4 separate regions of the Homo sapiens genome follow, and all the other regions are linked to region 1. The links come from fine-mapping of genetic effects on gene expression. A gene starts in region 1. Each other region holds a variant in brackets. All regions are shown on one strand. Distances are from middle to middle.

The links. PIP is the estimated chance that this variant, and not a neighbour inherited with it, causes the effect.
Region 2: its variant is the best candidate, but not a certain one, in a credible set for the expression of MACROH2A2 in unexposed skin (GTEx, PIP 0.72).
Region 3: its variant is the best candidate, but not a certain one, in a credible set for the expression of MACROH2A2 in whole blood (INTERVAL, PIP 0.56).
Region 4: its variant is the best candidate, but not a certain one, in a credible set for the expression of MACROH2A2 in tibial nerve (GTEx, PIP 0.50).

Annotation. Positions count from the first base shown.
Region 1 is chr10:70,047,821-70,055,961 of GRCh38, reverse strand. MACROH2A2 (macroH2A.2 histone) reads right to left here and starts at 3,116. Exons shown (of 9, transcript NM_018649.3): 1 at 2,962-3,116.
Region 2 is chr10:70,085,241-70,093,240 of GRCh38, reverse strand. MACROH2A2 (macroH2A.2 histone) reads right to left here. Exons shown (of 9, transcript NM_018649.3): 3 at 3,075-3,181; 4 at 1,287-1,484. Among named protein-coding and RNA genes, the nearest start is that of MACROH2A2, 36 kb to the right of the region's middle. RefSeq lists a cis regulatory region at 2,125-2,138 and an enhancer at 2,059-2,203. The variant G/T (reference allele first, on the strand shown) is at 3,061.
Region 3 is chr10:70,072,790-70,080,930 of GRCh38, reverse strand. MACROH2A2 (macroH2A.2 histone) reads right to left here. Exons shown (of 9, transcript NM_018649.3): 2 at 5,101-5,331. The coding sequence starts at 5,272. Among named protein-coding and RNA genes, the nearest start is that of MACROH2A2, 24 kb to the right of the region's middle. The variant AAGGC/C (reference allele first, on the strand shown) is at 3,932.
Region 4 is chr10:70,098,549-70,106,689 of GRCh38, reverse strand. MACROH2A2 (macroH2A.2 histone) reads right to left here. Exons shown (of 9, transcript NM_018649.3): 7 at 6,393-6,482. Among named protein-coding and RNA genes, the nearest start is that of AIFM2, 30 kb to the left of the region's middle. The variant GC/C (reference allele first, on the strand shown) is at 5,028.

The DNA of each region.
Region 1 (8,141 bases):
CTGCTTCATTCTTTTGAACTGCTGCCTAATATTCCAGAAGACAGATGCACCAGAGTTTATTTAGCCATTCCCTGTTGATGGCTGTTAGGCTGTTTTCTACTTCAGAATGACCAAAATTGCAATGAACATCCTTATACATGCTGAGCTCACGGATGCCTGCTTCTTTGGGTGACATACTGAGAAATGGAATGGTGAGTCACAGAATGTGTGCATTATTAATTTTATAGTGCCAAACTGCTCTTCCAATTGGTTATATCAATTTACACACCAGTCAGCAGTATATGAAAGTACCTGTTTTCCCACTAGCTTGCCAAAATCACTTTTTACCTTGTTTTACCTGCATGTATATTTTATCTCCTAGGCTTGGGGTTGTAAGCTTTATGAGAGAAGGGCCCAATGACTTCCTTATATTTCATTTCTTTCCCTATCTAGAGGTGTTTAAGAATTGGTGTATACTCAGGAGGCTGAGATGGGAGGACCCCTTGAACCCAGGATTTCGAGACCAGTCTGAGCAATATAGCGAGACCCCCATCTCAAAACAACAACAAAACAAACAACAAAAGACTTGGTGCTCAATAAGTGTTTGTTGAATGATCTCTAACCACAAGTTCTTTGTTAATCTCTGTGCAATATACTTTCCATTTACCAAGACTGCATCTAACTTGGAGGTTATTTCTTAAGGTTGAAAAACATTCTTAAGAAAGTTGGCTGAATTTTTGCACATCCCTCCCCGGTAACAAGTTACAGATACCTTTCATTTAAAGTTGCCTAAGACAGGACTCACCTCCTGTTCTGCTGGCAGGAGGCAGTGAAAACAGATGTGGTTGTCTCAGACAATAGCTAGCAGGGTGTCCCACCCACTGGGAAATGGCAGACCAGAGGCGCTTTAAAAATCCTGGGAACCAGACAGAAGATGGAATGGTGAGGGAGTAGGGTCAGAATCACAGGGACACTCCGGATTCAAGGAGGTAAATTCTTTTACGCAGTTTTGATATAGAGGAAACCACTAATAATGTGTAAAGTCTGACAATTAATGGATCCAGGTGAGGTGTAACTGTGGTAGGATAGGAAAAACCAGAGAAGAGGAGAACTGGGCATGTTTTAAAAGGAAATTTGGCTACAGGAAAGAGGGGTTATGAAGATGTGAATTATGCGACTCAAGATAAACTTTTCCGCCGGGCAGTGCCTCTATTTATTTATATGTAATTTTAGGCTAAAACAATTCTAAAAATCACCAGTATGTTTCCAAATCTTGGAGCTCTTAACATTTAGTTTGAAAATAAAAAGTGTGTTAAAACGGATTGAGAATTATGTGTAGCTTAGTTTGTGGTTCAAAACAACACACACGAAGACACGTTCTCGCTCTTAATAATGTTTTCTTTTTCTCTCACCTATTGAACCGTTTCAGTAGCAACTGTGCAGCCCAGTGAGGTGACAATTGGATTTCAAAACAAACACAAATGAGCAAAGTGAGGAAACCATTTGCCGCGGTGGACTAATGGCCCCTAGGGGATCCTGGGGTCTGTGGGGCTTAGAACTGGGCCCTTGTTTTGAATTCCTCTGAGGTGGACAGAAGCTGGAAGGACACCTCAGTTCCAGCGTGGCTGTGACAGGGTAACTGCCCTTAAAATCAGGGCAGCGGAGCCACGGTTCCCATCGCGTCCCCTCAAACACTCAGGGCCCCGCACTTTGGTTTCTCAGCCCATTTCTTCTCGCGCCTTTCATCCCTTCACTCATCCAGGGCCGTTGCCAAAAAACCCTGGCAAGGACCAGGCCTCAGTCAGGCCCACGGTGGTCCACTGCACGCGACGGGAAACTCCTGGAGGAAGCTCGTTTGGCCCTTGGGGAACCAATGCCCCTTTGGCCATTGTTGTAAGGAACAAAGAGGGCAAGAACTGAGGGCGCCCCCCCAAGGAAAGGCGGGGGAGGACACCCACGGGCGATCCGGGGGGCTGGCCGGGCTGGGGCTGAGGTGCGCCGGGGCTGGAGGCTGGGAGCCGGGGGAGGCAGGGCTGGTCCCCAACCGCCGCGCCCCGCGAGCGATACGCACGGCGTCCGGCGCCCGGCAGAGCCCTTTCCTGCGCCGCAGCCAGTTTACTTTTATTCCCTTTTTCGATATTTTTATTATTATTATTTTTTCCCGCGCAAAGCGGGAGCCAGACTGCCCAGGCGAGCCACGGCCGGGCCGCCATTTCCCGGTGAAAGCGCAGCGCGCGTCGGCACCGGGCGCCCCGGAAAGGGAACCGAAGGGGAGTGCCCGGCCTCGCGCCCTCTTCCGCGCCGGCCCCGGGGCGCACGCCCGCCCGCGGCGCCCGGGTGTCCGCGCAGCAACCCCCAGCCCTCGCCCCGCCACCCGGCGTCCCCGACCTGACCTTCCCCGGCGCGGCCCGCCCCCGGACTCGGGTCCCTAACCTCCGCCCGGCTGCTCCGCGCCCCCTCCATTGTCAGCCTGGAGCCGCCGGCGCCCTGCCCGGGCACCTTCAGAGGCCCCCGAGCGGCCCTCCCCGGGCTCCCTCGGGCCCTGCGCAGCCCCCCACCCATCGCCCCGTGCCCATCGGCGGCCGGGCGCCTCCGTCCTCCCGCTCCTGCGCCCGAAACTCCGCATTCCCAGGAGACCTCCGCTTCCTCCGGGTCCAGCCTCGCCTGGGGCCCGCTGCTGAACCTCGCATCCCTCCTCCTTCCCCTCTCAGTACCCTCGACGCCCCCGGCCCCTCGCTGGCCGCAGGAATTTGACCACTTCTTTAGCAGCCCCCCCTTTATCGCCCAAGGAAGCAAGTTGGGCAGCTGGATTTAAGAATTTGTTTTTGCAGAGGGTGGGTCGGCTATCGAGGGTGCGCCCGCAGGGGCTCGGGGGAGAGGCAGAGGTGGTTCTCTCCGGCCCCTGCACTGCCCCGGCGGCGCGTTTTGTTTCCAGACCCCGGAGCACCCTAAACAATAATGCCATCGCCATGGCGGGCTCACCTGGTGCTGCGCCGCCTGCTCCCGGCGCCCGGTGCCCTCTGCGCGCCCCTCCACGGGCGCAGGTTTGGCCCACGCGGCGCCGGTGCCGGGCAGGACTCTTTGCCTTTCTTTGGGTTCTATCTGTGCGTGTCAATGGCGGCAAGCGGCAGTTCTCTGGGCCGCGGATAGTAGCGGGGGGAGGAGGAGGAGGGAGAAGGGATTGCTCCTTCTCCACATAACCACCTCTAGGAGGAGTTGCTCAGCCTCATCCCCCGCCAGCCCAGGCTCCGCGACGGGTCCGGGGCTTTCGGTGGGGCTTGATGAGCTATTGTCCTTCAGGAGTATTAATGGTGAAACCGCGCGGCCTCCGCGTACTTGGCCGATCTGCGAGACGAGCCGAGGGCCACTCGCTAACATGAGGCTTTCCCCAGAACTGGGCACAAACGCGCTATGGTCGCGATCCAGTCTCCTGTTAGCTGGATCCACCTTTGGTGGGAGAAGGTGGCGTGGGCGTTCATCTGGCAGCTCTGGGGAGAGTCTTCGAAGGGGAAAGCGAAAAATGCCACCTTCTATATTTTTGTGTCCTTAAATAATAACAAGTACATTAACGTTTGTGTCCACCACTGGGAAGAGTGCATAGGGCGGCCACAGCCACGAGAGCTGAGAATTTATATCCGTGCCTGTAGGCTTTTTAGAAATTAAGACCGATTTAGAATCCAGCGTTGCATAATATTTGGAGAGGCAGATGTATGTTTTGGTGGGTGAGACTGTGTGTATGGGCATAATTTTTAATTGGGTTGCTTTACAAGGTGTTAATTTGCAATATCCCAACGGGTATTTAGATGAGCGCGAGGCTATTGTCTTCAGGACCAGTTTTTATTAGTTACTAGAAAATGCATCTTTATGGGGGTGTGGTGGACACTGTCGGGTGTGATAATGGGGATTAGCAGTTGCTGTGTTCCTAGTGGAAGCCAGTCTCGGCTTTGTATTGTGAGTTGTTGGCCAGGGCTCCATGGCTGGAGGGGAGTCAAAAGAATGTGTTTATTTCAGTGGGAAATACTAACTTGCTGTGGACCATCCAGGTTTCCTCTGATTTCTCCTACAGTCAAAGGACTGTGAGAGGCAACATTTTGATCCCTTCCAAAAAGAGAAACCGGTGCAAACAGAATTCTCCAGCCTTGGCCAAATGGCTGATTTTTAAAGCTGTTACATTTGGTAATATTGTGTATATTTGCTACTACAAACTTGTAACTATTTAGGCAGTGGGGACTTTGGAGTGACTGAAAGCCTCCCAGTGCCTGAGTGGGAAGAACTCATGCCTACCACCCTCTGCGTCTCTACTAGTTAGTTAATCATGGCTATTGCTGGCGTTTATAGATAGCGGGTTAGGTTTAGAACATGTGCATTTTAAAGTGTATTTGCTGAGAAATCAGCCATGTTTCTCTCTGACTTCCTCCAAATCACGCATATATCATCAACATATGCATAAGCCTCTATTTCAGTCTCCTATGGCTTCTCAAACTCCCCTGGACTCAACAGTCTCTGTTTCTTGGGGCTTCCTTTACTCTTTTCCTAAGCCTTTCACGCCCTCTGTGTATGACCTCACTGTTCTTTGTCTTGGAAGGTATTTTCCAGGTCAGATATCCAGTCAGGATAAAGTCTTCTTTCCCCAAGATGTATATTTAAAGGGTTTCAAATGATCCCCTGGGGCATCCCATAATGATGTCCTTTCCCATTCCTAAAGAAAGGGTCTCTCTTCTTATACCTTCAGGTGTCCATTCTTCACCAGAAATAACCATCAAGCCAACATTCAAGAGAGTTCAGGAGTTTTCTATGAGTGCTTGAAAAATACTCATACTCTGTCATCCAGTCAGCCAGGCTGACTGAAATATAGTTGAATAATTCATCAGTAGATATTAGATTCACATTCTCCTTGTAATTTCCCAATAAAAGTGGCATATGTGGTCATTTTTATGTGAATTTTATATAACAGTTCATTCTAGCATTTTGTTATGTGCTATCCTGAGAGAGGCTGGATCTAGTAAATTTACTGGTTAGGATTCTCCCATTTCATACTGGTTGGTTTCTTCAGACAGATGATGCTGTCACAACTCAGAAAATCAAGGAAGAGGTCAGCTTCAAAATACTCTGATTCTTAGGATAAAAGGGTTCTTAGAGTTCACCTAGTGGAAACCTTTGCTATAGGAAGAAATCTGGTATTTGGAAGGGTGAAATGACTCAGCCATGGCCTCGCAGGACATTAGTGGGAGATCCTCCAATGCATGTCCAGATACCCAGTCAATGCAGTTTCCGCCAATTCCAAACTTTTCAGGATGTATAGGGGACAAATATGCCACTTAATATGCAGATCTAGTTGAATTATGTGTGTTTAATACCGAACATTTAACACATAAAAATTTAACACTGAGATAGTATCATATAATATTATATAAAATTAAAATACATTTTAAAAAGTCAACATGATCATAAGTTGATAAGTAATCTAGAGTTCCGCAGTGGTCTCTAGCTCGGGGAACCTCTGACAAGTTGAATAATAAAGAATGATAAGAGCTTACACTTATTGAATGTTTACTATGTGCACTGTACTAAGCACTTTATCCTAACTTATTTAATCCTTTCAACACTTGTATGGGGCAAGCACTATTTTCTCCTTTTTACAGACTGAGGCAGGGAGTGGATGAGAAACTTTCCCACAGTTATAGAGTTAGGAAGTGGCAGATCCATGCTCTTAATCACTGCCTTAATCTGAAGGTGGAGAAGTGCATTTGTTTTAAGCAAAGGAATTTTGCACTCAGTCACATGATCTGAGTCTAAGAGGGGCCCTTGGGCCCCTCCCAATAAATGTCCCTAAGGAGTCAGCAAACAGCCTAATTACAGGAGGGTTGGTTGATTACAGTTGCACTGAAAACATTTTCTTAACCCTTGACCTGTATGTGTGCATAATATTATGAATACAGGTATTGATTGTGAGTTGACTCCATTACAGCAAACATGTCTTTAATAATTTTATTGAGATGCAGGATGAAGCACTTCTCCATTTAGAGAGAGGCATGTAGCATAATTTAGAGATGAAAAAAAAAAAAGAATCAAATGAATCAGTCATCCAACCAGATTTGTATCCTATTGGGTTGCTAGTAATTCATCCACAAAATCATCTACTTCAAAAATAGCTTCATTGATTTACCCCCCAAACCCTTTTTCTTGATCCAAATTTGTGATTTTGTGTAAACTGAGTGGACTTTTATTTTTCATGATTAGTTCTAATCAGTTTACGATACATATTATAATTTGTGATCATTTTACCCTCCTAGGATCTTAATATGCAATTACCTTAGTAATTTCCTGACTTTGCATCTTCCAGAATTTACCTATGTGCATGTAGGTATATATTTATATCTGGCATATGTAAGTATATGCGTAAGATTTGTAGATCTAAATTAATTTTATTTGGGAATTTCTGATCTCCTTTGAAGTAACCTGAGATTCCCTGGGAGTGTCATAGAAACAGATGGAAATCATTGGTTTATGCACTTCTTTGGATGTAAGTTAGGAACTCTAGACACTGTATTAATTTTATCAAGACACCAACTGGTATAACTCTAAATAACAATGTGGGAGCTTGAGGTTATGAATGCAGACAAAGCACCAGGCTAACAGTATCCCACCCTGTGAAAGAATAAACACAGCGTCCAAAAGTACGTTGTAGCTAGGAAAATACTGGACAATTTGACACATAAATTTTTGTTTAAGCTGGAAACTTACAAAGTCTTTCCTGTTTTTATATTTTGAATAGTGAACATGATTGGTGTTAAACTTTTATTTCCTTGATCACGACTGATGACTTTAGGATCTTAATCATGTGTGGAGGGGGAATAATATCCTTAAAAAAAAAAGGACACGCAGGCAATCATTAGGCCAACAAAGACTATGCTTATAATTTCTGGCTAAAATGAATGTCTTGGTCTCCTAGCAAAAGAAACATTTTACTAGTCCTGGTTCTTAAAAACAGTGACAAACTATGTCTTTTTTGATACTAAGTCTTGACCCTTTGGTTCTGGGAAAGGGGATTTGCATGAGTAGGTATGTGTGTGTATAGATGCATATTTAGATATGTACATTTATATATGAATCAAATATTTGATGCATATGTTACATGTGTATACCTTGTAAGATGAGTAATGACTGAGATTCCAGTGTGCTCAGAGTTAGGGCTGGTTTGGATTTTAAAGAAATCTACCGAATGTTTAGCGTTTAACTGATGAACTATATTGTAAAAGAAAATGAAGTGTTTCAGCTTTTTAAGACAAATACACTGTCAGTCCCAATTATGCAAAGTTGTGGTTAGGAAAATAAGGCACGTGGTATCATTACGTTTAATGGAAACAGAGCCCAGAGCTAAGGGGAGTGTGCCAGTTGGTAACTTGCTCTGATCGGTTACGGAGCTTTCTGGGAGATCATCCTGTTACCTCCAGGCAGAGTTCTTTGTGACAATTGTGATGAGAAGTGGCAGCAAGTATCCAGAGAGTTTGGACTTTAGCATCTGTGTTGGCAGATCTGTGCAATGTGACCTCACACCTAAACAAAATTGCTCTTTACAGTTTAGGCCCAGTCTGGAGAATGGGGGCATTGATTTTCCAAATCCACAAATGCAGAATACCATAGTGAAACTATAATTTATTTATACAAATGGTGTGTTTTTACAAAGGCCATCTGTCAGTTGACTCTCTGATCTAAAACAAATCTGTTTGTTCCCCCAGAAGAAATAACATGTCTGTTGAAAAAAGATTTATGGACGACAGGCTGCCCAATCCACCAACCATTGGTATAATAGTAACTATTTATGATATATTTACTTCTAAAGGAGTGCTGTGAGTGGAATCTATTACTTGTAAAGTATGGTAATTAATTTTTCATTACCTCAAAGCCAAGAAATGGAGCCCACTTGCATTTATTAAGATTGCTGTGTGAGAAACATGTTCCTTCTGGAAAAAAATATCCAAGTAAAGCATTCATAGAGCTGTGGCTCTGTGATAACTCACTGTTCTGATTGGGTAGATATAGGCCCATGGGGTTGATCTCAAGCCTTTGATTATTTTCTGGAGGACAAGGGGACGAATCACTCTTGAATGACCATGGCTACTTTATCTCTAGGCACCATGGATGGCCCTCATTAAAAATTA
Region 2 (8,000 bases), 37 kb before region 1:
GCTGGTACAATCAAGGAGCTGAATTTTAAATTTGATTTAGTTTTAATTCAAATCCAAATAGCCTTGGCTTGTGTGCCTTAGCTCACACTTATAATTCCAATGCTTTGGGAGGCTGAGGCAGGAGGGTCGCTTGAGCCCAGGAGTTTGAGGCTACAGTGAGCTATGATCTCGCCACTGCATTACTGTACTCCAGCCTGGGTGACAGAGTGAGACCCCTGTCTCTTAAAAAAAAAAAGCCACATGTGACCAGTGGTTACTGTACTGGGCAACATAGGAAAACATTATTCTATCAGTGGCATCTCTGAGCTAAGCTACCTAGTATATCAAGCTAACCCAAACACCTAGTATATCAAGTATATGCCAAACACCTGAAATTCCACTGGCGGAACTCAGGGAATGCCTGCAGGAGACTAGAGGCTGTTTGGAAGGCAACACAGAGCTCTGCAGAGAAATAAAATGCAGGTTCCTGGCTATCATCGCTCACTTCAGATTTTGCTGGGGGTAGTAAAAGGGATCTGAAAACCATCCCTGCTTAGGGTTTGGAAACCTAGAGAAGACCCATTTCAGCTCTAACCTCAAAGGCCCTTTATTCTTTTACCTGTACATTCTTGTCATTTTCTTCCGGCACCAAGCTGCAAGAGTCCTCGGTCCTTCAGAGGTGTCTGCTACGAAGTCATTGTCTCATCTTTAAACTTCCCTCCTGTTCTGTGAGCGTCTTAGTGTCTGCCTGGGCTGCTCTAACAAAATGCTATAGACTGGCTGGCTCACAAACAACAGAAACCACTTTCTTTTTTTTTTGTTTGTTTAAGAGACAGGGTCTTGCGCTGTCACCGAGGCTCGAGTGCAGTGGTGCCATCATGGCTCACTGCAGCCTCTAACTCCTAGGCTCAAGCCATCCTCCTGCCTCGGCCTCCCAAAGTGTTGGGATTACAGGCATGAGCCACTGTGCCTGGCCCAGAAACTTGTTTCTCATAGTTCCGGAGGCAGGAAGTCCTTGGCGCAGGCAGGTTCTGTGTCTGGCAAGGGCTCACTTCCTGGTAGATGACGCTTTCTAGCTGTGTCCTCACATGGCAGAAGGGTCCCTCTGCCTCCCTCAGGCCTCTTTTATAAGGGGACTGTTCCCATTCGTGAGGACTCGCCCTCATGATCTAGTTATCTCTCAAAGCCCACACCTTGTAATCCTATGCCTCTGGGGTTAGGTTTCAACATATGAATTGTGGGGGAACACAGACATTCAGACCATTGCAGTGGGAGTGCCTGGCCCAGGACACGCAGCCTCGGCCTACCTTTTTGGACGTCCGTGGTTTGGCAGCCTTGGATTTCTTCCCCCCCTTCTTGCCTGACGTGGCCTTCCTGCCTCTTTTCTCTGGGGGTGGGGAGAGGATCGTTTCCGACTTGCCTTTGGTCCCTCGCTTTTTGGCCAGCAGTTCGGGGTGAATTCTGGGCAGGACGCCTCCACTGGCGATGGTCACTCCTTTTAGCAGCTGAAGAGAGAAATGCATGCGCTCATGTAGCAAACAGCCTGCTAGTTCCCAATTTCATACAGTTCTTTTTTTTTTTTTTTTTTGATACAGAATCTTACTCTGTCACCCAGGCTGGAGTGCAGTGGCGCGATCTTGGCTCACTGCAGCCTCCGCCTCCAGGTTCAAGCAATTCTCTTACCTCAGCCTCCTGAGCAGCTGGGATTACAGGCACCTGCCACCACCCCGGCTAATTTTTGTATTTTTAGTAGAGACAGGGTTTCACCACGTTGGCCAGGCTGGTCTCGAACGGCTGACCTCAGGTGATCCACCTGCCTTGGCCTCCCAAAGTGCTGGGATTACAGGCGTGGGCCACTGTGCCTGGCCTGGACTTAATACGGTTCTAACTGTTAAATGTGGCCTCCGCTTTCCTAAAGAAACTGCGTAATACACCATTTAATTGGCTTTTCCCACTTTCAGTTGTAGAGCATTTCTCCGTAGGTTAACAAGGCATCCTGTGATGTTGTACAGAAAGCAAAACGAAGTAAAGCAAAATAGAAGGGACACAGAAGTTGAAACCAGGGATGTTGCCCAGGGCTCTGGAATTCCAGACACAACACAGGATAAAAAGCTTCCCATGTGGGGAGCGCAGCTTGAGAAAATGATGTTCAAAGGTCATTGCAAAGACTAGACCCAGTTAATGATGAACCAGTGGTCTCCACAAGCTTGCACATACATTCCATCAGTAAAGTATGTCTGGCCATGCTCCTCCCAATCAATATAAGTTAATTTATCTGCAAAGAACAGACACGTACTACTCCACTAATATATTCTGCAGATTCGAAACCAACACTACCCCAAGCATGGTCTGCGACCATGGCTCACCCATGAACTGGTAGTTACCCGTCAGTGACAACAGAAGTATAGCAAGCATCTAGAAACTTTCACAGCAAACTGACAGTTATTGTATATCTGTTGAATCTGATAACAAAAAATTATGGCTTGTAGTTTGCTTTTTAATTTTTCTAGTGATTTTTATTACATTTCTGGAAATTATCAGTCCATGATGGATTGGCCATAAAAATGGCTTCTTCACTACAGTTTGAGAAGAGTGAGATTAGAAAATAAAGATAAATGAAAAGAAACAGAAATAAAAATTCTTATACTATTTACCTACCACCTTACATATACTGTAGGTGAAAAGGGGGTATTCGCTTGACTTTGGAGTCAGTTTCAGAATATAAACAGTCAGTTCTAAAATATAAAGAGTCTTCTGCCTTCATCAGAAAAAACTGTCAACTAAGTTTGGGTGAAGAAAGTGAAGAGAATAACATTTGTGCCACACCTTCCTCAGCAACACACAGAACTTGTCTTCAAAGAGAAAAGAAAGGTCTGATAAGACCTAGAATATATAATGAGATCTATGCCAGAGGCAATTTTATTTTGAATCTGAATGATAAGAGCTAGCAGAATTTGTTCTTTTATATGGCCTGAGTTTTTTTTGTATAAATGTAATTGGGAACTGTAGCAGGAGTGACTCATGGCCAGCCAGGCCCACACATTAGCATGTTTGGCAAACCCATTCTACGGCTTCCCTCAA[G/T]GCTTCAGACATACCTGGTTGAGCTCCTCGTCATTGGCAACTGCCAGCAAGATGTGTCTCGGGGCTATCCGGGCCTTCTTGTTGTCCCTCGCGGCATTGCCGGCCAATTCTAGAATTTCCGCTGAAATCACAAGGAGGCATTAACAGGCAATCACAGAATGGGGTCTGAGCTAAAGCTTTTCTTTAGAAATGGCCTTCAAGTTTGATCACATTCATTCATTTGTGATTTCTATGTCTCGGCCTGGAAAGAAATCCAGGAAGCGTAAGAGAACTCAAGTTAGTCCCAGCTACTCAGGAGGCCGAGGCAGGAGGATCGCTTGAGCCCAGCCAGGAGTTCAAGGCTGCAGTGAGCTATGATTGTGCCACTGCACCCCAGCCTGGGCAACAGAGTGAGACCCTGTCTCTAAAAAAAAAATTTAAAAAAATTAAAAAATTTAAAAAAAGAAAAAATAAGTCAGGTCACAGAGAAGTAAGCTATTTTAGCAAGATGTTATCCGATCCTGTGGCAAAGCCTCCTGGTTGTCCCTCAGCATCAGTTCTCCCTCTTCCTCTTCTTCCTTGGTACAGGACTTCTGATTTTTTTTGCCAAGCCCATAACTGCAGGAAAACTATATTTCCCTTGATAAGTGTGGTTCTGTGACCAATATTTGGCCAAAGAAGGCAAGCCATTGTGTTTTCTGGTCCTTCTGGGAAGTGTCCATCAATGAAGGGGCTGTGCCCTTCTTTCCTTTCTAATGGTGGGCTGAGGACACGATGGCTGGAATTTGGGCAGCCATCTTTGACCAAGAAGAAGAAGTTGTGCATGCTAGAGCAAGAGCACAGAAGGAAACTGAGTCTCTACCAATCTAGACTGTCTTTTCTAGACTTCTTTTGTATGAGAGTGAAATAAACTCTCTTGTTGAAGCCACTGTCTATAGAAGTGAATCCTGACCAATACAGAATCCTGCTATAGAACCTAAATTCCTCTCAGTCTGTGGGGCACAGGGCCATCTCTGAAGAGAATAGTGATGTAGGTAAAGTCTGTTCTGGGTGCCCACTTGGACTTCTCTTAGACTGTCTTTTTCTTTTTTGTTGAGACGGAGTCTTGCTCGTTCTGTTGCCCAGGCTGGAGTGCAGTGGCATGATCTTGGCTCACTGCAACCTCCGCCTCCTGGGTTCAAGCAATTCTCCTGCCTCAGCCTCCTGAGTAGCTGGGATTACAGGCGCACACCACCACACCTGGCTAATTTTTGTATTTTTAGTAGAGATGAGGTTTCACCATGTTGGCCAGGCTGGACTCGAACTCCTGACCTCAGGTGATCCACCCGCCTGGGCCTCCCAAAGTGCTGGGATTACAGGCCTGAGCCACTGCGCCTGGTTGACTCTCCTTTTCCTCTTTGCTCAATGCCCTAGGTCCTCCCTGTCCTAAAAGAAAAGTGGATGGAAGGACTGACTTACACTCTGGGATGAGGAAATGGTTAACCCGAAAAGTGAATTCCTAAAGGGAATGCCAGGAGACCTGCGTAGGAAAGCACATAGAGCCTGGGGGTCTTCCACATACTTCCCAAAACTTTAGCATGGCTGACTTTAACAAACACGCCACTTGGCCAATGTGAAAACATTGATAAGAAGAAATTTTCCTAAAGCTATTTCCCATGCTATTAAAACCTTGGGGTAAAAAAAGAAATCTGTAGAATTGGTTTCTACTATCTATATGCTTTCCCCCTTCCTCTTCTGTTTTATTTCGTTATTTTTCTTTCTTCCTCAATTTTAGAAGGATGTTCTGCTAAATCAAATTTGCCTTCCAAAGTATGAATGAGCCTTTAAAGAAAAATTCCTTCCCTTAGAAAGCTAGAAGGAATGTGCCAATGTGTTGTTGTCTCACTGATAATGAGGGGGGAAAGTGTGCATGTGTGCGTGTGCGTGAATGTACTGTGTGTGTGTGAGTGTGCAGGCGGGCATATGTGCGTGTGTGTGTGCGTGAATGTACTGTGTGTGTGTGAGTGTGCAGGCGGGCATATGTGTGCGTGTGTGTGCGTGAATGTACTGTGTGTGTGTGAGTGTGCAGGCGGGCATATGTGTGCGTGTGCATGTGGGTATGTGCTGGGAGGATATGCTGATACAATGGCACAAATACTAAGCCCTAAAATTAACAGATGACTTTGTATGAGTCTTTGCAATCAATCTAATTTCAAATAAAAGAGCACATGAAATTGCCATCATTCATAAAATCTACGGCAATCACAAAAACTTGACATAAGTATGCTGTATTAACTAAGCACATGTGATTAACAAAAAATTAGAATAAAATAAACATTACAGTTAAATATTCATAGGCATTTCCATAAAGAAAAGTGCTGAATCACCGCAAATTCATTCTCACATCTTTTCCAGATTATTAAGCAATGAATATTGTGTTTGCCAACAATTCATTTATGCAGTGACCGTGTTTTCTGAATCAAAGATTGGGGCACTAAAATTTGAGGAGTGTGAGCATGCGTGTCGGGACAGTGGGATAGGGTATTTGAAATTAATGCTGTCTGTGAACCCATGGATTATACTGGAAAAATGAAATTAATGCTGTATTAGATAAGCAGGCTTGTGCTTTCAGGCTGTTGCCCAATCCTTGCTTTCTCTTCAAAAGGATGCCCATTAAAAGGAAATGGAGTGGCCAGGCATGGTGGCTGATGCCTGTAATCCCTGCAATTTGGGAGGCAGAGATGGGTGGATCCCTTGAGGTCAGGAGTTCGAGACCAGACTGGCCAACATGGTGAAACCCCGTCTCTACTAAAAATACAAAAATTAGCCAGGCTTGGTGGCGTGCGCCTATAATCCCAGCTACTTGGGAGGCTGAGGCAGGAGAATCACTTGAACCTGGGAGTGGAGGCTGCAGTGAGCCGAGACTGGGCCACCGCACTCCAGCCTGGGTGACATAGTGAGATTCTGTTTAAAAAAAAAAAAAAAAGAAGAAAGAAAAGAAAATGGAATTATAAGGCTTTCAAATAGACTTTATTTTTGGAGACAGGATCTCACCTCTGTCACCCAGGCTGGAGTGCAGTGATGGCTCACTGCAGCCTTAACCTCCTGGACTCAAGTGATCCTCCCCCATCAGCCGCCTCAGTAGCTGGGACCACAGGCTTGTGCCACCATGCCAGGCTAATTTTTAATTTTTTTGTAGAGACAGGGTTTTACTTTGTTGTCCAGGCTGGTCTCAAACTCCTGGGCTTAAGTGGTCCTCCTACCTCAGCTTCCCAAAGTGTTGGGATTTCCAGGCGTGAGCCGCTGTTCCCGGCAGGCTTGCTTTATGGCTCTGGGTTAAAATGTGCAGCTCTCCATTGTGCACAGTGAAGGGAAGTGTGCTGCCCCTGCTCATCTCAAGGGACTCTCATTTCTGGGGTACACATGGGAGGAAGAAGCACTCCACTCATCCCTTTTTCTAGATGGGTCTGGGGGTTAATGAGCCTCCCAATTTTAAGCTTCTGAGCAACTGAATTGAATTTAGCATCCTGGATCATTACTTTCCTCTCTCCTGTTACCTGCATTTAGAGGGAGAAATTAAGCGCCCTCCCCAAGTTCATCAAATTAACTGTCAGCAATAAGAGGCAGGGCCATGGGAAGCACTACATATTTGGAGTCTTCAGGAAGCCCATGAAGGTCAGGTTATTTTCAGCTTGACAGACAGATGCACAGACATTCACAGACAAAATAATCTGCCGGAATCAAACGTAGCATAGGACGAGACTGAAGGCAGAGACTCAGCATGCAGCACAATTCAGGGAATGCAGATGATGCTTGGGGATCATGCAACTGGGCTCTTAAAAAACTCTTTTGAAACAATCTATAAGAAAGAAAATCTTGATTATGTGTTCTAGTGCAAAAGCAGTGGTGGGACTTTTTTTTTTTTTTTTCCTTAGAGAGAAAAAGATAATACATCACAGAAAATCTACATCAAATAGTTCTTATCTCTTTTGGATGTTTAGTCTGGACATCCTTGAGACATGGACTTCACCATTTAAATATTTGTAATAACATTAATCATTAGCCAGGCACAGGGCTCATGCCTATAACCCCAGCACTTTGGGAGGCTGGGGTGGGAGGATCATTTGAGCTCAGGAGTTCCAAGGCTGCAGTGAGCTGTGATAGTGCCACTGCACTCCAGCCTGGGTGACAGAGGAGACCCTGCCTCTAAAAAAAAAAAAATTCAAAGCAAATGAAACAAGAAAAACATTAATCATCATTAATAGTTTCAAATGTTATTATGGCAAATATAGTCCCATGAACTATAAAAGTTTGTTACATTCTTGAGTGACTTTATTGATCTTGGGGATTTTATTAATCCTGCCAAATCCTTATATTGGCAATCAATAGGAAAACTGGATTTATACAGCACTAAATTTACTCTACTGCAAATGTTGTGGGAAGATCATAATTCTGTTAAGTGGTGGGGACTTCTATGGCAAATCCCTCACTTCTCACAAGTCACACTTCTAGCAATAGTAACCATCTGGAATACAGCTGAGTATCTAGCAGTAAAAAGAATTTCTTTAGCCAAAAGGGATGCTGTAAAGCTCATACACATTATTTTGGAAGAGTCTATGTCCCTTCATTTTGTATACAATTTAAACCAACAGTGGATATTCCAGCCCACAGAAGATGGGAAATAGCACATTAATTATAGGGTTGGGACAGGTGAGGTGGAGTGAGCAAGACTCTGTCTCCTTGCCAGGCCCTTTCTTCCTTGTCCACTTGCCCACTGCTTGGCAGTGTCCCTGGGGTTCTGTCTGTGCCTTCTGCTCTGCTAGGGCCATGCAATCTTCTGGGTAAAACCCCACTGGACTCATGGCTCCAGCTTCTACCCACCCGTCTGTACTACTGAATCTGCACCTCCAGCCCTCCCATGATATCACCCAGATAGCCTCACCTGGGGGCTTCACAGGTAAAGCAAAATCAGTCCCCAAATC
Region 3 (8,141 bases), 25 kb before region 1:
CACCACACCCAGTTAGGTTTTTTTTTTTTTTTTTTTTTTTTTTTTGAGATGGAGTTTCACTGTTGTTCCCCAGGCTGGAGTGCAATGGTGTGATCTTGGCTCACTGCAACCTCCACCTCCCGGGTTAAAGTGATTCTTCTGCCTCAGCTTCCCAAGTAGCTGGGATGATTACAGGCATGCACCACCATGCCCGGCTTATTTTTGTATTTTTAGTAGAGATGGGGTTTCATCATGTTGGTCAGGCTAGTCTTGAACTCCTGACCTCAGGTGATCCACTCGCCTTGATCTCCCAAAGTGCTGGAATTACAGGTTTGAGCCACCGTGCCCAGCACACACCTGGTTAATTTTTTAATTTCTTGTAGAGACGAGGTCTCACCATCTTGCCCAAGCTGGTCTGGAACTCCTGGACTCAAGTGGTCCTCCTACTTTGGCCTCCCAAAGTGTTCGGATTACAGGCATGAGCCACTCTGCCCAGCCCTCTTGGACATCTTATAGACACCAAAGCTCAACAGGTCCCAAACTGAGCCCCTCCTGCTGCAGCCTGGTTCTCATCCATTGCTCCCTACTTCAGGTACAGGCACCATTCTCCATCCACTAGCTGCTTTGCTCTCTCTTCTCCTTCCTCTCGGCAAGACTCTTTTTTTTTTTTTTGAGATGGAGTTTTGCTCTTGATGCCCAGGCTGGAGTGCAATGACGCGATCTCGGCTCACCACAACCTCCGCCTCCTGGGTTCAAGTGATTCTCCTGCCTCAGCCTCACGAGTAGCTGGGATAACAGGCATGCACCATCACGTCCGGCTAATTTTGTATTTTTATTAGAGATGGGGTTTCTCCATGTTGGTCAGGCTGGTCTCGAACTCCTGACCTCAGGTGATCTGCCCGCTTCTGCATCCCAAAGTGTTGGGATTACAGGCGTGAGCCACCACGTCCAGCTGGTCAGACTTCTTTTACCCATTCCCTACTCCTTTTGTCTCCAAGTCCACACCTCAATCTACTTCTCACCCCATGGCAGTGTGGCCTGAGAGAAAGTAGCTAGTCCATACCTACAAGATTCATATCATCCTTGATGCCCCTCCCTGTGGATCCAATCCATTATGGAGTGGAGCTGACTCCGCCCTCCAGAAAGCTCCCAGATTTTCCATTTCTTCTCACCATCCCCACTGTGCACCCTTGGTCCTGGCCACTGTCAGTTCTTCACAAAGTGACACTAAAACAACTCCACTGGTCTCCTGGAATCTGATCTTGCTCCTTGACAACTGATCTCTACCTAAAGCCAGAGTGATGCCTTGCAGATGCTGCCACCTCTCTTTGATGCCTCCTCTGCCGTGTGTGTGTGTGTGTGTGTGTGTGTGTGTGTGTGTGTGTGCGCGCGCGCGCGCGAACCCTCAACGTGGCCTTCAAGGGCCGTCACAGTCTAGCGCCTGCTGCCCTGCCCCCATTTCATCTCTCACTCCTCCCATTTCCAAGCTCTGCTCTCGGCACATTAGAAAGGGCCACACACTCTTTTAAACTTGGAGTCTTCTCCCTTACTCCCCACCTCCCTTACTATCTTCCCCTAGTTCACCCGCCCCCCCAGTCTGAATCTGGCTGACTCCCTTCCCCACCTGGCTGCCCATCAGAATCATTTGGGGGAGCTTTTAAGAATCCTGATGCACAGAAAATACCCCAGAGTCTCGGGGGTGGGACCCAGGCATCAGGATTTGAAATCAATCGATACGAGAAAATGCAGGGTTGACAACCTGGTTTAGGTCTTAACAACACTTCTGTTAGATTAGGCAGCCCTTCCCCCAACCCGCAGTTCCCGAAGTTCCTCTCATTCCCTGCCCGACAGCACCTGATCTTATTGTGAGGCGTTTCCTTCTTGTCCTCCTCACTAGGCTCTAAGTCCAGCAATGGGAAGGACCAAGTTAGCTGGTTTTCTGCTGTATCTTCAAGACCTGATTCAAATGAGGCACTCAGTCTAGATTTGTTTCATGAATGTGGAAGTCATTTCAAGGGTGACAGGAGGCTTCCACACTTTGACCCCCCTTCCCTAAACAGAATCAATGGATACCTCTTTAAAAAACAAACAAACCAAAAAACAGACTAAAATCCCCCATGTCATTTACTCAACAGTAGCTTGCAATTCCACTAATATGATTCATTCCCTTGGATTAAAACACCTTGTCTCATTAAAATGCAAATTCAGCCTGAAAATACAACACCTTAATGGAATTAGTCATTTATACTTTGTCCTGAATGATTTTGTCAGCTCTTAATAGAGGGGGGAGGAGAAGAATTAGCATTTATTGAGTGCATCCTATACGCCAGGTGTTTTACACATATTAGCTCATTGAATGAGGTTAAAAGAGTTAGTTCTGGAAACACCTGGAGCTCAGAGAGGTTAAGGTAACAGAGCTGGTCAATGAGTCATCCCGATTGGAACCGACATCTGAGCCTGCACTCAGTGCCTGCCTGCCTTTGGGGGAGAGAAAGGGCACAAAGAAGGGAGGGAAAGGACACAGAGGACAGGCCTGGGCCTCAGGAGACCAATGTCACCTTCTCCTCCTCCACGTGGCCCAGGATGGTCTGGACACTGGGACTGGCCGGGGGCAGGAGGACTTTGGCAATGGCACCCTTGCAGGTGCTCATCCTCTCCATGTTCAACCCACTGTATAAATGGCCCAATTCTATTGCGGGAACTCTGCCTAAGGACTTACTGTGTGTGCTGACGTGGAGATGCTCAACAAATGCTCTTTGAATGGATGAACGAACAGGAAGAGGTAAGCTTCGTTTATCTCACACATCTGAACCAAAGACTAACAGAGATGCTGGGGATTCCAAAGGCCAAATTTTGTATATGCACGGATTAGACTTTTGCCAAACGGAGGCACAGGAAGTACTTAGTTATTTTCATCACACAAATATTGGGGTAGTGTAGGGCAGCAAAACTGCGTGGCTTGAGGTCGAGGGCGTGAGGGAGTCCTAGTTCCCCATCTGGAAGCTGTGGGATCTTGCAGTTAACTCAGTGTCTTCCAGTCCCAGTGGGTGACACACACCTAACAGGTTGTTTTAAAGCCTCATAAACTCTTCTCAAAGTCTGTTCTCTCCCTGTCTCAGCTGGGAGGTTTTCCCATCAGATTCCTTGGCCTCACTCCAGATCCAGTGAATCAGACCCTTTGAGAGTATATCTAGGAACTTGCATTTTATTTTTTATTTTTATTTTTGTATTATTATTATTTTTTAGTAGAGATGGGGTTTCACCGTGTTAGCTAGGATGGTCTCGATCTCCTGACCTCGTGATCTGCCCGCCTCGGCCTCCCAAGTGCTGGGATTACAGGCGTGAGCCACTGTGCCCGGCCTTTATTTTTTGAGACGGAGTCTCGCTCTGTCACCTAGGCTGGAGTGCAGTGGTGTGATCTCAGCTCACTGCAACCTCCAACTCCTGGGTTCAAGTGATTCTCCTGCCTCAGCCTCCCAAGTAGCTGGGATTACCGGCCTGTAATCCCAGTAGCTGCCATCACGCCTGGCTAATTTTTGTATTTTTAGTAGAGATGGGGTGTCACCATATTGGCCAGGCTGGTCTCGAACTCCTGACCTCAGGTGATCCACCCGCCTCAGCTTCCCAAAGTGCTGGGATTACAGGTGTGAGCCACTGTGCCTGGCGGGAACTTGCATTTGAAACAAGCATTCCCCACATCTTTTGGCTTGAGGTTAAAAGGCTGGCTACAATCTTGCTATTCAACATGTGGTCCCTGGACCAGCAGCATCATTATCACCTGGGAGTTTGAGGAATGGAGTCTCAGGTGCCACCCTGCCCTTGTCAACAAGATCCCTGCGTGACCCCACTTGGAAAAGAACTGCTTTTCAGAGCCCTCCAGCTCTCCCCAACCTCCTAAAGGAGGGAAGGACTTTTAGCTCAGGAGGAAGGCTTTCATTTCATAAGAGGAAGG[AAGGC/C]TCATGATGCAGAGGTCTGCCTGGTGGAAGCTCTCGGGGGAGGACATTTCCTCCTTGGATCCGTGGATCAAGGAAAACCTTTCACCAATAAATGTTGGTTGGTGGGCGATGGGGACTAAGAGGGCAGGGCAGGACTGAGCATCTAAAGAGGAAAAACCAGCAGAAAAGAGGAATCTGGGGACAGAAGAGAGGACCAGCCCTGCCACAGCCCAGAGGATTTCATGCAGTGAGGCTTGCCTCCCCAGTGTTAGACCATCTGGGGAGGTTTGCTTTTTAACCTGGCAGAATTTCCAAGGAACTTAACCTTGGTGTCTAGGGAATTTGTTAACCTTGGGCAAAGTCAGAGACATTGTTGCTCGTGGCTATTACCCAACAAGGGACTAAATCATACTTATTGTACATATATATTTATATATTTTATTTGTAAATACTTCTGAAAAGCACCCCTGATATTGTAAAGTTTGGTTTCTATTTAACTATGACATAAGAGAACAACAACAAAAAAGCTAAAGAGAAAGTTACTAAGATAAAGAACACACACAGCAAAATCTCATCTTTCAGTAAAAAAATTAACTTTAACAACAAATATGGGAAACTATTTTCTGTGCACCCCTATTAGACGAGAATCACCTCAGTGAAGGAGAGCAAAATTAGAACATTACATCGGCTTCATGCCAGCACCTGAAAGATGCTTTTAATGATGCGATAAATGTTATTTATGGACCCTGAGTCCCAGTTTAAATATACCAGGAAAACTAATGTTTAATGAGCAATTTGATGTAAAAAGACTCCCTTTTACAAAATGAATATCAAATCCCCCATTCTCCCTGCAGTTTATTTTCTTCAGGAGCTTAGATATTTATATATTGCATTCGCTTAAAGCAAGACATATCTTTTGCAGGACTGGTCTAGGAGGGCCACTTACTTGATTGTGGGTTCTCCGCCTTCCATGCTGATCACCTGTCCTTCCTATACCCTCTTCTCTCCCCTAAAGTCTGCAGAAGTTGATTTTAGCCAAGCAGGCCAGTTGCAACCCTGTCACCACCCACAGTAGCCTTGAGCCAGCCAAAAGGCAATTTGGAGCATCCCTCCCCAGCCTGCGAGGGGGACCCAGGGGAGGGTGGGGACCTGGGAGCAGGCAGCCTCCTTTGCGTGTCCTCATTACCTGCCAGGTACTCAATGACTGCCGCCATGTAGACAGGGGCGCCCACGCTGATCCGGTACTTGAACGTCCCTTTCTTCAGATAACGCATCAGCCTCCCCACTGGAAAGATGACACCTGCCCTAGCTGAACGGGACAGCTTGGACATTTTCTTCTTCCCACTCCGGCCCGACATCTTGCTTCAGTTTCCCTCTCAGCTTGCTGACACAGTGGCCTCCCGGCACTAACACAATGCTAAAAAGGAAAGAAGACAGAGTTGAGGAAGGGTAGTTGGCAAACATCTTGGGCACAGTGGCATGGCCCTTGGGCACCACTGTGACACCTCTGACTGCCCTGGGGAGGCAGCTGAAATCTGGCTGCTACTGCAGGTGCAGGAGGCACGGAGTCAGGCATGGGGTCTCTGAAGGGCATGGGCAAGCCCACCCACAAACATCCCTCCCCCACCAAAGCAGCCTGACCTCAAGAGGAAAGGCCACAGAAAACTGTCACTGAATAGGGAGGTCTCGGTCCTGTGGTCAGCTGAACAATGATCCCCAAAGATGTCAATTTCCTCATCCCCAGAACCTGTGACTGTTATCTTATATGACAGAGACTTTGCAGATGGGATTAAGCTAAGGGTCTTGAGATGGGGAGGTTTATCTTGGATTATCTGGATGGGGCTAACATAATTGCCTTAGAAGACGGAGGCAGGGGGTCAGAGTGGGCAGTAAGAGATGTGAGAACAGAAGGAAAAGGATTTTCCCCTCAAAGCCATCAGAAGGAATTAGTCCTGCTGATACCTTGACTTTAGCCCAGTAAGGCTAATTTTGGACTTCTGACCCCTGAACTATAAGAAAATAAATTTGTATTGTTTTAAACACTAAGTTTGGGGTAATTTGTTCCAGCAACAATAAGAAAACTAATACAATTCCTCTTGGCTTATATGACTTTGCCCATTATAATGGTTAGTGTATTAGTCTGTTCTCACACTGCTAATAAAGATGTATCCAAGACTGGGTAATTTATAAAGAAACAGAGGTTTAATGCACTCACAGTTCCACGTGGCTGGGGAGGCCTCACAATCATAGTGGAAGGTGAAAGGCACGTCTTATATGGCAGTAGACAAGAGAGAATGAGAACCAAGCGAAAGGGGTTTCCTCTTATAAACCCATCAGATCTCGTGAGACTTATTCACTACCACGAGAATGGTATGGGGGAAACCACCCCCATGATTCAATTATCTCCCACCAGGTCCCTCCCACAACATGTGGGAATTATGGGAGCTATAATTCAAGATGAGATTTGGGTGGGGACACAGCCAAACCATCCGTTAGGTTTGACAGACATAACTGAGAGCTGATGTGTATTTTTTAGACACTTTTCTAAATCCTGCAATAATGTAGCACTCAGAAATGGAAACAGGCCAGAAGAGGCAGTTTTACTGAATATGTGTGGTATGCAAACATAGCAAATGAAAAGCCATAATGCAGCCTGAGCGTCTGTTCCTTGGAATGAGGAATCCAGGTTGATTTTGGGAGAAACTTCACAGTCAGCACAAAGAGGTGAATTCAGCACCAGGAACTAAGAGAGAAACATTCACTGTTGCTTAAGGAAGCTATCTTTTGTGTGAAGACAAAATAATCACATATTCCTGGACAGAGTCTTTGTAAGCCCACCCACAATCTAGAAAATTGTAGTAGATCTTGGGTAGGCTTGGTCTGCTGGTTGACAGGGTACCGTAACCGACAAATGGAATATAATCTTCAGTAAGTAAAAGCAAATTACAAGGGACAAACGGTCAGGAGCAAAGAAAAGGAAAATGACATTTTCTAGGAAATGTGTTAATATATCAAAGCTCTCTTCCCCAAGGTCAATGGCGTTCTCAGGGGCCGTTTCCTCTGGAGATGAAAAATGAGAAAGTCAGAACAAATTGAAATTGGTTCTATCCATTGATCCTGGTTAGGTCATCATACCAACAGGCAAGATGGCAAAGGAAAGGAGGGCCCAAGAAAGTCCCTAAATATGACAGAAGAAGATATTAAATGAATGCTTGGTTAATATGAAATAGATACAAAACCAGGATTTACTTAATCTAGGTGAAAGAGTGAACAGATTTCAATTTTCTAAAGCATCTGATAACTCCATTACGACCAAGGAGACTATATTAAAAGCTCTGAAATTAGCAACAAAGCCCTTTCTCAACTCTCACCTGTCCCCGAGGTGAATGATTCAAGTTTGGGGCATTTTAGTATATACTTCATATACATTATTTAAAATGCTCATATGTACTTACTACTCCCCTATTTTATACTTCATATGTCGTTTTGCCACCAAAGGATGTAGCTATTCATCAGTTAGGTACAAGCAAAGATGAGAGAAGTGCCTTAGACTATTATCTCTTTGACTGCAAGGCCCAGAGATCAGGCAATGTTGCCATGTTGTTTTATCACGTTGTTTCTTCATCTGGAAGAAACAAGATCTCCCACCTTTGCCGTGCTGCTGCTGTCTGTGGCTGCTCACTCTCATAAATCCACTTGTAGGGGTTTTCTCTTTGAGGAAGCAAGCAACTATGTGTTAGGTAAATGTATGGAGGGCCTGCTGTTAGTCAGCCCTGTCGCAGGAAAGAGGGGAAACAGACAGCATTGCTAAGTGGTCCCTGTCCTCACATAGCACGTGTTTGCTAGCTGGGTTGTGGTGCTCTAAATGGAGGTGGCTCTTGCTATAGTGGAAGGAGCCCAGGACTGCGGAACAGAAAGTCCTGGGCATAGCGCCGCTTCTACATAACTACAGTCATGCACCCCACAATGACCGCATATGACGGTGGTCCTGTATGATCATAATGGAGCTGAAAAATTCCTATGCCCTAGTGACATCTTTTTGTTGTTGTTGTTGTTGTTTGGGAAGGAGTCTTGCTCTGTCCCCTAGGCTGGAGTGCAGTGGTGCAATCTCGGCTCATTGCAACTTCTGCCTCTGGGGTTCAAACGATTCTCCTGCCTCAGCCTCCCAAGTAGCTGGGACTATCGGTGTGCACCACCATGCCTGGCTAATTTTTGTATTTTTAGTAG
Region 4 (8,141 bases), 51 kb before region 1:
AGTGGCTGGGATTACAGGCACCCGCCACCATGCCCGGCTAATTTTTTGTATTTTTAGTAGAGATGGGGTTTCACCATGTTGGCCAGGTTGGTCTTGAACTCCTGACCTCAAGTGATCCACCCACCTCGGCCTCCCAAAGTGCTAGGATTATACTGCACCCAGCCAAAAGTCATTTTTAAATAAAAGGAATATGTTCCTATTGGCAATGTCAAACATCCAATCAAGTAAAAAATGACTTTCAGGGTAGTGCACGATGACATTTCAGTCCAAAACAAAGTATGTTCATGGCAACTGGAAATGAATAACACAGCTTGTAGCCATAATGCTTTGTAATGTTCTCCAGAGTTGTCAAGGATGAGGGTCAAGTTATTGCAAGGGCTGTGACCCTGGTATTTGGTATAAGCACCTATCCACATAATGACTAGGGGCATTCTCTTACCTAATGTGATGTTGCCTGGTGAAGACCTGCATTCTGAGGGTGGCAGTGCTGCTGCTGGGAGCTTCTAGAACCTTCCCCCAGGTGAGCCATCACAGTTCTTGGGAGTCACCACAGCAAAAGGGGACTCTAGGTTGGCCCCTTGTCCTGCTGAGAGGCTGCTACTGCTGATGCCTGGTTTCCGTGACACTGTGGGTTTTCTTTTAACAGCACCTCAGTTTCCCACAATGGCCTCTCTTCTTCCTGCGTGTCTGGGCCCAGTGCTCTTCTCTCTGCTGCAGCCCCACCTCCTAAGCAGCCATCTGCAAGCCATTTTCCTCCTTAGCTTTCAACAGGGACCTGCACCTCATGACCTTTCTGGGGCCCCAGGGCTAACACGTGCCCAGTAAAATGGCCATTCACTCCTGAAACCCGATTCCCCTTTTTCCCTCTTTGTCACTGCAGACACCATCAGTTTCCTCTGCCTTGTCTCATTTCAGGCCCATGTGCTTCATTTTCACCCCCACTCCACCCCCACCCTCATCCAATACAGCTTTCTTGATGGTCTTCGGGCCCCAGCCCTCTGTCTGCCAAACCATCCTCCACACGGTTGCTGGAGCCAAGGTCCTTAAACTCCACATTTAAACTCAGAATCTGCAACTGCTCCTGATTGCCCCCTGGCCTTACTGCAGTCCTCCCAGGCTCCCTTCATGGTCGGCCCCTCTCCCCTTGGAGTCTATCCATTTCTTGCTCTTTCTGGATGCCCAGTCGTCCTCCAGCCAGTGGGCTCAGTCCCCTGCACACATGGGTCTGGCTGCACCTCTGTCTCCACACTTGGCTATCCTCCTTTGTCCCTGACTCCCTCGCCCATTCTCTCCGGGCCTCTGCCATGCAATTCAGCAGCCAGCTGTGCTAAGTGATGTACTGTGTTACCCTGGGGTCCCCGCCTGGTTGTAAAATTCAGGAGTGTTCAGGGCCTACAATCACATCCACATCCTGATGCCTGCGCCCGACAGCACACACCGTAGATGCTTAACGTGAACTGGTTCTGCCCCAGCTGACATCTTCACTGAAGCACTTTTGTATTCCTTGCTGCTGCCTGGCTCCTGCCACAGTCACTGGCAGGCAGGTGCTCCAATATTCAACAAATGAATGAAAGTCCTGACTTTTCATCAGTTTGCTCAGCCCTGGAAACCCTGGACTTACCTTAGCTCCAGCTTCTGCCTCCCTGAACATGCAGCATCGCTGCCTCTCACTGACTCTGCACCTGAAATATTTTCTTGATCCACCCTCCCCGACCCCCTGCCACAGGGTGGGCCTGCACTGCAGTTGGTCTGTTTTAACCATGTTAAGATGCACTTTTTTTTTGTTTAAATATTTTAATATTGTTGAAATCAGGAAGCATCTTAGAACTGCTGTCAGCCTGGAGCTGAGTTCTTCCAGAAAGAAATTACATTTCCTTCTATGTCACCTGGGGACACTACCAAACTAAGGCTATGTCTCACTCTCTTCTCTGCCTCAGGTTTTGAGCTGCACTGGATCTGGCTGCAAATCTTCAGGAGCACTGGCTTGCGGTTCAAATTCTTTTTCTGTTTTTTAGACACAGAGTTTCACTCTTGCCACCCAGGCTGGAGTGCAATAGCGTGATCTCGGCTCACTGCAACCTCTGCCTTCTGGGTTCAAGTGATTCTCCTGCCTCAGCCTCCCAAGTAGCTGGGATTACAGGCACCCACCACCACGCCCAGCTAATTTTTGTATTTTTACTAGACAGGGTTTCTCCATGTTGGTCAGGCTGGTCTCAAACTCCCGACCTCAGGTGAGCCACCCGCCTCTGCCTCTCAAAGTGCTTCGATTACAGGCGTGAGCCACCATGCCTGGCCAAATTCTTTAGTGAGGCTTTTTTTTTTTTTTTCCTCTCTGTCCACTGGATGCCAAGGTCAAGATATTTGCTCCTCCTTTCTGCGTGGTGGGTTCATGTCTTGCTTGCTGTTATACTAATGTGCCCCAGCTTTATGTGGGGCCTCCTATTAGACACTTTATTTTGGAAATTTATTTTTTCTTAATGTTACATACAATAAGAGTATATCTTAACAACTGATGGTGTTTTTAAATGAAATGCAGTGTGGTGTTAGACAGTGGCGAACCATCTCCCCTTCTCCATTTTTCCCAGGGTGCTAACACTCACTGGCCCCAGGCCATGGCTTCTTACACCTAACATATTTGCACCAATGTCTTAGCTCAAAATTGTGTCCTGTAGCCCTCTCCTTCCTTCCAGGTTCATGTCTATTTCCTTGGTGCAGACTTTTGTATTCTTTCCAGCTAGTGTCTGGATTGCTGCCTCTCAACTTCTGCACGTCTGAAATTGTACATCTTTTGTCCTCATTCTTGAATGACAACGTAGCAAAATGTGGAATTCTTGGTTGACAGTTTTTTTTTTCCCTTCAGTGCTTTGAAGGTATTTCTTTCCTGTTTCCACACATCTTTTTTTTTGCTGATGAGAAGTCTGCTGTCAGTAGAAGAGCCATCATTTCTTTACAAATGATCTGCCTCTCCTCTCGGGTTACTTTGAAGGTTTCTTTTGATTTTTCAATTTCTAAGGCTTTACCACAACACTCCAGGTTTTGGATTTATTTTCATGTATTTTGCTTGATATTTTCAGCTTAAGGGCTCATGCTTCATCCTAGAAAATTCTCAGCTACGATCTCCTTAAATAATGCTTTTCTACTTTCTATTTCTGCCTTTGGAACTCTGTTTAGAAGTGTGTTGGTGCTGGGCACGGTGGCTCCCACCTGTAATCCTAGCATTTTGGGAGGCTGAGGCAGGAGGATCACTTAAGCCCAGCAGTTCAAGATCAGCCTGGGCAACACAGCAAGAACCCATCTCTATTTAAAAAATAATTTAAAAAAGAAGTGTGTTGGAGCTTCTCATTCTGTGCAGAGCAGCTATTTTTCCTCTCCTTTGCACCCTATCAGGCAGTTTCTGGGGAACCTTCCCCACACCCAGGCCCCCAGTCCTGATGCCGTCTTAGATGACTGAGTTGGGGCTTGGTCTCATGGTTATATCGGGGATGTGGTAGAGCCAAACATTGAGTCGGTGGGCAATGTGGCCCTGGGCTTGGGTGAGGGGCTCTCTTCTCCCTTCTGCTACCCTAGAAAGACAGATTTTTATAGAAGTTGTAGCCCTGGGTGGTGGCGAGAGCTTTGGCTTCTTGTAAAGGCCGCGAGAGTCTCATGCAGCCCCTTGCTTTGGGCAGTGAGTCTGGCTCTGGCCCTCTTTATACTCTGATACAAAGTGAAGCGACTCTGCATCTTATAGACCTGGAGCCGAGGCCTGGGGCGGCAGCATCCTGCAGGTGCTGCTGCAGCCCTCCTGTCTCTGTCTACATGGAGGCTTATCTTATATTTGAGTGTGGCTCTTAGGGTTTTTAAAGAGACACTGCATCTATTACTGCTTTGCCTGTGGGGAGTAGTGGGTGGAGATTTAAAGTGTGGGCTCTTGTTCTTTCTGGACTAGAAGCCCCCATTACTTTTTTCTTTTCTTCTTTTTTCTTTTTTTTTTGAGACAGAATCTTTCTCTGTTGCCCAGGCTGGAGTGCAGTGGCACGATCTTGGCTCACTGCAACCTCCACTTCCCAGGTTCAAGTGATTCTCCTGCTTCAGCCTCTGAGTAGCTTGGGATTACAGGCATGCGCCACCATGCCTGGCTAATTTTTGTATTTTTAGTAGAGACGGGGTTTCACCATGTTGGTCAAACCGGTCTTGAACTCCTGTCCTCGTGATCCGCCTGCCTCAGCCTCCCAAAGTGCTGGGATTACACGCATGAGCCACAGTACCTGGGCCCTACTTTTATAACAATCAAGTCTAATCTGGACAGCCCCCTGCTTAAACTTCCAAGTGCCCTCATGTCCATGTAGGGTCAGATCCAGACCCCTTCGCACAGCCCACAGGCCCAGACTCATCTTGGCTGCTGTTTCTCTCCTCCCACGTGCTGACCCAAGACTCCCTGCTCATGCAAGACAAGCGTCTTCTTGCATGCAGTGCTCCTATTGCCCTCTGTGTCCCACCCCCAAGGGGTCTCACAGCCTCACTGCAGTCCTCCCACGCTCCCCTACGCTGAGGTCGTGGCTCCTGCTCTGTGCCCCAATTATGCATCTGAGGGCAGCGGTGGGTTTTATTTTCCTCTGAAGCCCTGCGGCACTTGGCACTGACTGAGGGTACAAGGAGTGAACTGATTGGGAGTCATGTGGGTGGGAACATGGATCTGAGGTTGAATCCACCTGTCAAAAAGTTGCCCAATATCCTGGACAAGAGATGTTTAAAAAAAACTTGTGCACAGATGTTCACTGCAGCTCTATTCACAATCACCAAAGGCGGAAACAGCCCAAATGTCCATCAGTAAATGAACGGTTAAACAAAATGGAATATTATTCAGCCATGAAAAGGAATAAGTACTGACCCATGCTACAGTATGGATGAACTTTGAAAAAAATGTTAAGTGAGAGAAGCCAGACAGAAAAGTCATATATTGCATGATCCCATTTATATGAAATGTCCAGAATAGGCAAATCCGTAGAGACAGAAAGTAGATTAGTGCTTGCCAGGGCCTGAGGGGG[GC/C]ACTGGGCATGACTGCTTAATGGTTAGGGGGTTTGTTGGGGGAAAAGCTAAGTGTTGAGAGAAGCTGAGGCAGGGCTTGCATGTCTGACGTAATGTAAAAGAGTCTTGGAACATGTCCGGGGTCCAGATTCGAAAACGCCTTGTGGCCTTTGGAACACCAAGCTCTGTGCCAAAGGGTGGAAGGCCACCCTGACACACCATAATCTAAGCCCAGGGCATAAAACCCCTCGTGGCTTGGATAGAATCCAGGGCTCGTGGCTCTGAATGTGTCTAGACTTGCTGGCTTCTTGCTCCTTGCTCTCCCAGGATCGATTGTATCTTGAGTTAAAAGAACCTGCTCTCCATTATCTCAAGTAGCAGAATATGTTCCAAATGCTTCAAAGGAAATGCTAAACTGTCACAGCTGTAGATCATGCGCTTGCCCTTTCGACCCCCACATCCTCATCACCTGTTTCTTTGTTTGATCACCAATAAATAGCCTGGGCTTCCAGAGCTCGGGGCCTTCACAACCGCCACACATTAGTGACAGCCCCCTGGACCCACTTTCTCTCTCAAACTATCTTTTCTCATTCCTTTGACTCCGCTGGACTTTGTCACCCCCATGACCTGGTGTTGAGTCCGATCAACCCAACAGGGTTTCTGTGTGAGGTGATATCAAAGCTCTGGACTAGGTGGTGGTGATGGCTGCACGACACTGTAAAAGTACTTAATGCCACTGAATTATACGCTTTAAAATAGTTCCAGTGGCCGGGTGTGGTGGCTCATGTCTGTAATCCCAGCACTTTGGGAGGCCAAGGCGGGTGGATCACTTGAGGTTAGGACTTTGAGACCAGCCTGGCCAACATGGCAAAACCCCATCTCTACTAAAAATACAAACACTAGCCAGGCATGGTGGCATGCGCCTGTAATTCCAGCAACTCGGGAGGCTAAGGCACAAGAATCGTTTGAACTTGGGAGGCAGAGGTTGCAGTGAGCTGAGATCATGCCACTACACTCCAGCCTGGGCGACAGAGTGAGACTCTTTCTCAAAAAAAAAAAAAAAAAGAACAAAACATAGTTCCAGTGGTAAGTCCTATGGTGTGTGTATTTTATCACACACATGCAAAGTTCACCCAATGGCTCTAGACCATTTTGGGGGATCTGATGCAAACTGACTTGAATTATTCAAACATATTGGAGTCCCCAGGACATCTGAAAGGATCTCTATGGGCCTGCCCAAATTACCTGAGATGCTAAAACAGCTTTCTGATTAGTTATGGCATACTTTGACTCATAAGCTGAATAGGCATGAGGCACGTGAGGCTGGAGACTCCAGAGAGGAGGGTGAGGCCATGCTGGTGACAGGAGCCTAGTTCCACACTTACCTTCGGCGACTTCCAAAGGGCCTTGGGATTTGCGAAGCTCCTTTACCGTTTCCAAGAACTCTTTTCCCCCAGCCTTTTCCAAGGCTTTACCTGCAAAGGAGAGCAATGGGAAGCCACTGTGGTTGTTCTTTCAATCTAATTACACTGTTTGACATATTTGTAGTAGGCCAGGAGAAAACAAAAGCACTGTTAGAAACTAGGAATTGAACTTCCCAATTGTTATCCTGGTTTGCCAGTGGTCAGGGGAGGCAGGGGACTCTGGGCCTCAGTCTAGCAGACTTAGATTGGCAAGCTTTTACCAAGGATATTTTAAGGGGTGATTTGGCCATAAAGCGGTCTCATGGCTTGAGTCTTGTAGATGATTTAAAAACAAAACAACAAAAAACTGTGATTCTAGTGTTGTGTCCCACAGGTTTAGTACTCATGTGGAGAGCTCTGAAGTCCTGGTCCCATCACAGTGCCATCAACGTACTGTACGTGCTTGAGTCAAAGGACAGACAGAGGCCCAGGGCAGCCTGGCATGTTGTTCCCCCAACCCGGTGCTCAGTTTGCAATGGAGAAATGCAGAGAGGCTAATCTCTAAGGACTTTCCTGCCGGGAGATGCCCTGAGCCTTTGATGTTAGGGGAATGCCCCACTCTTTCTTTTTTTTCCTACCTCAGCTCTTACTTCTACACAGGCCAAGTGGAACCCCTGGGAGATGACAGGACACCACCTCTGACCCCACAGGAACCCTGTCGGTGTGCACCAGCGCATCCAGCTCTCATGTCTCTGAGATGACATGGGTGTTTTGTCCAGACTGGGATGACGGCAGCTTTGGGGCAGCAGAGGAGGCATTTTTCAGATGTTTTCATCTTCGAATGAACTTGGTGATCTGGATGTCTGCAGCAAGTCTCAGCAATCTCTTTATGAATCATCATTATTATTATGGTTCAGTTCATGGTCTTTCCCAGGGCCTGGGTGCTGATGCTTCCCCACTCCACACTCGAGCCTCAAGTATATGTGGACAGCCACAGTACACTGTGCAGCTGGTTTAGGACAAGTGTCTATTCCAGTGGTCACTGTCCACTGGGGGAGGGCGTGCAGAGGGGTTTTCTTTGTTAATGTTCTTGGGTTTCCATGATGCAACTGAGAAATGGTGATTGTGCATTATACCCAGTACCCCTGAGACTCCTTTCTGGCCCCCAGATTCCTGGACACTGTTGATCTATTGGGTCCAGAAGCCTGGAGAAGGCCGGGTAACTGAAGCTGGTAGCCAGTTCATGTTGAGAAGCAGAGGACTAGGTCTACACTGGCGCCCTCTGCATTCAGGTCAAGGGCCAAATGGGAATGTGCAGAAGGCAAGGGGAATCCACCCTCCTCACTGAAGCCTTTTAAGAAAAAAGCATCCTGGAGAGAGGTAGTTTCTCTCTACAGAAGCATTCCCAAGAAGGAAAGGAGCAATGCTAGAATGAGAATACCACAGCTTTGCAACTCCTAACGAATGGCGGAATCTAGAGAAGAGGCATCAATGGCCACCAGCATCACACCAATACAGACAACCAGGCACGACGCGCCTCCTCGGGCACGAGCACTCGCCACTGACCAAGGAGTCTTGGCAAAGTTTTCGAACCTACACCTCATGAAACCTCTAGATCCAACCACCAAGTTATAAAAAAGCAAAGAAACATGTTTTATGATGCCAGGAGGATATAATCAACAAAATCCGGACTGCATGAAACCCTATAGGACAAATGGCCCAGCTTCCTCA